2 separate regions of the Homo sapiens genome follow, and region 1 is linked to region 2. Evidence: fine-mapped expression QTL. A gene starts in region 2. The other region holds a variant in brackets. All regions are shown on one strand. Distances are from middle to middle. Region 1 overlaps MAPK6 (mitogen-activated protein kinase 6). Region 2 holds the start of MAPK6 (mitogen-activated protein kinase 6).

Evidence for each region. PIP is the estimated chance that this variant, and not a neighbour inherited with it, causes the effect.
Region 1: its variant is the best candidate, but not a certain one, in a credible set for the expression of MAPK6 in whole blood (TOPMed, PIP 0.83).

What each region holds. Positions count from the first base shown.
Region 1 is chr15:52,038,504-52,041,406 of GRCh38, reverse strand. The region is part of intron 1 of MAPK6 (mitogen-activated protein kinase 6); the gene reads right to left. Among named protein-coding and RNA genes, the nearest start is that of MAPK6, 21 kb to the right of the region's middle. The variant T/C (reference allele first, on the strand shown) is at 1,324.
Region 2 is chr15:52,017,803-52,020,705 of GRCh38, reverse strand. MAPK6 (mitogen-activated protein kinase 6) reads right to left here and starts at 1,487. Exons shown (of 6, transcript NM_002748.4): 1 at 1,330-1,487. MAPK6-DT (MAPK6 divergent transcript) reads left to right here and starts at 1,611. Exons shown (of 2, transcript NR_156732.1): 1 at 1,611-2,007. RefSeq lists enhancers at 427-476, 1,817-1,886 and silencers at 727-1,236, 1,537-1,646.

The sequences.
Region 1 (2,903 bases), 21 kb before region 2:
CTGATCAACGTGGAGAAACCCCATCTCTACTAAAAATACAAAATTAGCTGGGCGTGGTGGCGCATGTCTGTAATCCCAGCTACTCCAGAGGCTGAGGCAGGAGAATGGCTTGAACCCAGGAGGTGGAGGTCGCTGTGAGCCGAGATCGCGCCATTGCACTCTAGCCTGAGCAACAAGAGCAAAATTCCATCTCAAAACAAAAAAACAAAAAAACAAAAAAACAAAGTTTAAAGCTTAGACCCAGGAAAAAACTGGGGCTCCATATTCTTTTTACACGTTCTACACACTTCAACAAGGCAGTAAAAAGGAAGGTAACATAAAGGGACCCTTTCCAGCATCTTTCCAATTTCTCTGCTTCCAAATAAATGTTACCCATTCCTACCAACCATTGCTGATTCTGGGTTGTTTGGGGAGTGATCATTAAGTTTAATTAGCTGGTTCGATATTGTTTTGTTTTTAAAAATTTGGTGAATAAAATGAAGTAAAGAGAATAATTTATAAGAATAAAAGTTGGCTTTTTGCTTTTTCTTTGGCTTTCTTTCAGTGATCTACCATGTCATGGAATTAAAAGCTCTTTATAATGCAGGCTGGATACCAGCTTCCTAAGTTTATAAGGCAGTTCCCTGAAACTGCATTAGCCACAACTGTCTGCTCAAGCACTGCTCTCTTTGCTACATTACCTCCTGCTCCCTGTCAGCTGGTCTACCCCCACACCAAGAGTAATGCTGGTACTGGGAGTCAAGCCTAAGTGTATAAAGTAATGAAATGCAAACAAAAGAAGTAACTTTACTTTGTCCTATCTCGCCAGAATTTTCTTTTTTTCTTATCAAGGAGCAACTTGGCCTACTTATGTCAAAAAGGAAGTCTAGATGTGCAAAGAAAGTTTGAAGTAAGGGCCATAAACATAAAGGTTACTTTTTCTGGTTTTCTCCTCAACCTTCTGCTCTGCTGCTTCTCAGGATAAATGCTGACATGGGTCATCTGGCCTGTTCACATTCACTGACAGCACAGCACTTCCCCCATCCCCTCTCCACAAAGGCTCTTATTTTGCTCTTCTCCATAGTCAAGTGAGTAATTTGAGTTAACAGGAACCTAGCCAGCCTCACATCTCCTCAGCCAAAACCCAGTTGCTTTTGGACAGAAGGGAAAGGTTGAGCTTTTCTTATATTCACCTAGGGCTATCTCCTAACCCTGGCACAGATAAATGTAGCTGTAGCAAATTCACCCTTCCCTGAGATCATGTCTCAAGCTCTCATCAAAGCTACTAAGATTTTCGGGCAGAGAAGGCCAAGTGCTACAGCTTAGCTGCTTGCTCACTGCATT[T/C]TTGACAAAGCCCTTGCTCCTAATGTATGGTGGGCGGCCATAAGAGTTATCAGGGGCCCTTTCAGGATTTGGACATCAAGGAGGCTGGGAGTATAAACTATTAACAACAAATAATCTTAGGAACCTGGGAAAAGACATGGGACCTTAAATCTAAAATGCCAAAGTCTGAAAGGCTTTGGGTAGTATCAGTAACTATGCTTATCTACAGAGACAAACTTTCAAAGTCAGAGAAGACAGTAACAAAGTATCCAATTTAAAGACAAAACAGGCTGGGCGTGGTGGCTCACACTTGTAATCCTAGCACTTTGGGAGTCCAAGGTGGGCAGAACACCTGAGGCCAGGAGTTGGAGACCAGCCTGGCCAACATGGTAAAACCCCTGTCTCTACTAACAATACAAAAACTAGCCAGGTGTCGTGGCTCACACCTGTAATCCCAGCTACTCAGGAGGCTGAGGTTGGAGAATCGCTTGAACCTGGGAGGCGGACGCTGCAGTGAGCTGAGATCACACCACTGCACTCCAGCTTGGGCAACAGAGTGAGACCCTGTCTTCAAAAAAAAAAAAAAAAAAAAAAAGACAAAACACTCACCTACTACTACCAATTTGTGTTCTTAAATTGTTTAAGCCCTTGCCTACATGCATTTTAACATTAGGGGCTTTCATTTGCCTTTGGCCATTTAAAAAGCCATTGTAAAGCACATGCCATTATGTTTATTTTGTTGCTTATCTCTAGTTGTTATTTTCCAGTATGGATGACTTACAGTAAATCTGTAACCAGATTACAACTAGTAAGTCTAGTTACAGCCAGGCGTGGTGGCTCATGCACTTTGGGAGGCCAAGGCGGGTGGATCACCTGCGACCAGCCTGACCAACATGGTCAAACTCCATCTCTACTAAAAATACAAAAATTAGCTTGGCATGGTGGTGCACTGCTGTAATCAGCTACTCAGGAGCTGAGGCAGGAGAATCGCTTGAACCTGGGAGGTGGAGGTTGCAGTGAGCCAAGATCGTGCCACTGCACTTCAGCCTGAGGGACAGAGGGAGACTCCATCTCCTAGTTACAGATTTACTGTAACCCATTCATATTAGAAATTCAAAAATTCATAGACCAGATAAACTAGTAATAACATCCCTATAGACTCTTCCAATTCTAAGTCTATGATTTACAAGTCTTATATTTCTTTAGTTTTATTCCCAAGCCCTGTGGTGGTATGCTCAGAATGGGAGAGATGTTATTCAAATTGCTGTATACTAAACAAATATAATCCCTTCTACAAACTTACGGCTGGAAATTTTTAAATAATTATAATAACGCTTGATCCCATTTCTTATCTTCCTCCCGGCAGGAGGCTTTATTCTAAGATTCCTAACCTAACTAACATTAAAGAAATATTGGAGCAAATATAGGACAGGAGACATGTGCACAGCCTCTTTCTTCAAGCACCTTTGGACACCTGAGGATTCTAACTAGATGAAAATATAAATTTTCAAAGCAGTCAGGATAATAGATGGCCCCCAAAAATCTAAGTCTTGCTCATGCCACAAGTTCAACGTAGCTGTCAGCCAAGCTGCTAAAGTACC
Region 2 (2,903 bases):
TATTTCTATGAAGAAATTCCTGATTTCAGGGCCAGGCCCTGTTTGGACCCTACATTCTTCTGGTCAGATCATTCTTTCCATCTCAGTTTTCCAGCGTTAAAGAGGGAGGACATGTGCAATTGGAACTGTAAGAGACAGGCTAGAAGAATCAGCCATCAGAAAATTACTCTGAAGCTGCTTGCTCTTCATTGTATGGCGTGTTAATTTTTCCCCTTGACAAATCATCTGTATCCGTTAAAAAAAAAAAAGTCATTACTGAGACTGCATCTTTAGCAATGAACACGAATTCTGCCGTTAATACAAGTAGGCTTCTAATTCCAACTCACCAGTCCCTTTCACTGGACCTTTTCCAATGAACAAGCAAAAGAAAAAATAAAACAGGAAAGGAATCAAGAAGCTCCCGCTGCACAGAGATCCCCCTAACACCTAAACCGGTTGGGTCCTACACTCGCCAAGAAACAAAAGGATGCCAAAACACCTTTACTTTTCGACACAACTCACAAGGCGGACTAAAATGCACAGCAAAGTGACAAGGCCCTTTTTGGTGAACCGACAAAACAAGCTTTCATTTGGGCACTTTTACAGACCACCACTTAAGGTCCCGAAAGAAGCTAAGGAAAGACTGTAGGGCCGAGGGAGGAAATTAGGAATTTCGTCTCCGAGTTTTCAGTACCTCATTCATGGCAAGACTCAAAACTTGGGCGGACTTCAGGGCTCTGAGACGAGCCGGGTGAGCGCTGCGCGCTACGCCACTGGAGACTTTGCCCGGCCGGAGTCAGCTGAGGCCGAGTCACCGGGTGGGATGGGGGAGGAGACGCGGGAGCATTTCGAAAGGCAGCGTGCCAGTAAGGCGAGACTCCACGCCACCTCATGTTCCCCGGGCCGCCGCCCCTCGCTCGCCCGCCCTCCGGTCCGGTCCGGCTGGGTTTCGAACCCGCGGAGCCAGGCGCAGGCGGCGGGACGGCAGCAGGCGTGCGGGGCCAGGGAGCGGGCGCGGCCTGGCAGGGCGACCGGCGAGGGGCGTGCCGGGTGGGAGGGGCGCGCTGGCCGCCTGGCCGGCCCCACGCGGGGACCCCAGCCCGCCGCCCGCCCGCCCGCGCGGGGACGCGCCGGCCAGGCCCGAGCGGGCGGGCAGGCGGGCGAGCAGGGGGCGGGCGGCAGACCGAACAAAAACGCCTTTGTTGAGCGGCAGCCGCCGGAGGGTCACACACAATGGAGGAGGGAGCCGGCTCCGCCGTCGCCGCCGCCGCCGCCGCCGCCGGGCCCGCCGCGGCGCCCTCCCGAGCCGCCCCGCCGGCGCACCCCGCACACGTACACACACACACTCACGGGACTTCTCCGACTCATCGAGAGAGTGCGGGGCTCGCGGACTGCCCCCAGTGTCGGCTCAGGTCTCCGGCTGTGCTGGCGGCAGCGGCGTCTCCGAGGCTCTCGCTTTGCCGCAGTCGCCGCCATGTAACCCCGACCCGCGAGAGAGGGCGAGGAAGAGGGGGCGGGGCTTCGCGGTGCCACGCCCCCTCACGTCACAGGCTCACTCCACGGGTTCTCCCGCCCCCGCCCTGCCCAGCGCACCCGCACGCGCCGGAATTTCCAGCGCCCGTGACTGGGCTGCGCGCGCCGCGGAGGCGGTGGGAAAGGCACGCGGCTCGTCCGGCGTCTCCTGGGGGCTTTGCCTGCGGGCGGGCAGGGAGGAAGACAGCTGGGGCCGTTTGCTCTACTACCTGCCCTGGCATTAAGGGAACAAAGTGACCAAACCCAGTGCCAGCGTTTACTAAGCACCTACTACGTGCAAGGCACTGGGCAATCCGAGAGGAAGAGGCCTCAGTCTCCAGGAAGGGTGGACCTTAAGATGGATTGGCTGGAAGGCGACAGCCCGAGCACAAGACAGACGCGTTAGAGGCCAATACTAAGGTCATTCATTCTGCCAGAGTATGGAGGAAGGCTTTCAGGAGTGGTCGCCAAGGTGGCCTTTCAGCTGGATCCCGGAGGAGCGGATATAACCAGGAGGTGGGGAGGGTGTTTCTGTGAGCAAAGACTGGGAGGCCAGAGTACCTGGCTTGTTGCAGGAACTGGGATAGGACAATTTGAATTTGGGAAGGGATGCACTATGAAACGTAGAAAGGTGGATGGGTGCCTTCTTGGGCCCACTTGGCTAAAAGCAAACTTACATTACTTATCATGGCTTATTGAGTCCAAGGAGCCTTTTCAGTGTTTATGTGAAATTTAAGTATTTATGAAATTAGAGACGCAGGTCAGCATATTTTTTCAATGACTTCATCACCATCTTGCTGAGAACCAGACATAGAATAGCCCTTCTAGTCATTATTATGGGCATCTTCAAGAAAGAGGCAAAGACCACTTCAAAAAGATCACAAAGGGCCAGGCGTGGTGGTTCACGCCTGTAATCCTAGCACTTTGGGAGGCCGAGACGGGCAGATCACCTGAGGCCAGGAGTTCGAGACCAGCATGGCCAACATGGTGAAAGCCCCGTCTCCACTAAAAATACAAAAAGTAGCCGGGTGTGGTGGCTCACACCTGTAATCCCAGCTACTCGGGAGGCTGAGGCAGGAGAATAGCTTGAACCCCGCGGGGGGTTGCAGTGAGCCGAGATCGCGCCAGGACACTCCAGCCTGGGCGAAAGGGCGAAACTCTGTCTCAAAAAAAAAAATCACAGAGTAATGAAGTTAAGTGGTTGGGGTGAGCTTGAATGCTTTATATTTTTTAATATTTAAAACAACGTCAGCTGAGTACCAGGTGTGAAGAAGAGGTAATGAGTGAAAAAAACCAAGAGAAAGGGGAGACTTGTTCCAACCGCAGAATTTCCAGCTTCTGCAACGAGAGCTCGTACCTTCAGCCCCACTGCCTCTGCTCTAGGCTCTCCTCTGATCCTCAGGACATTTTTC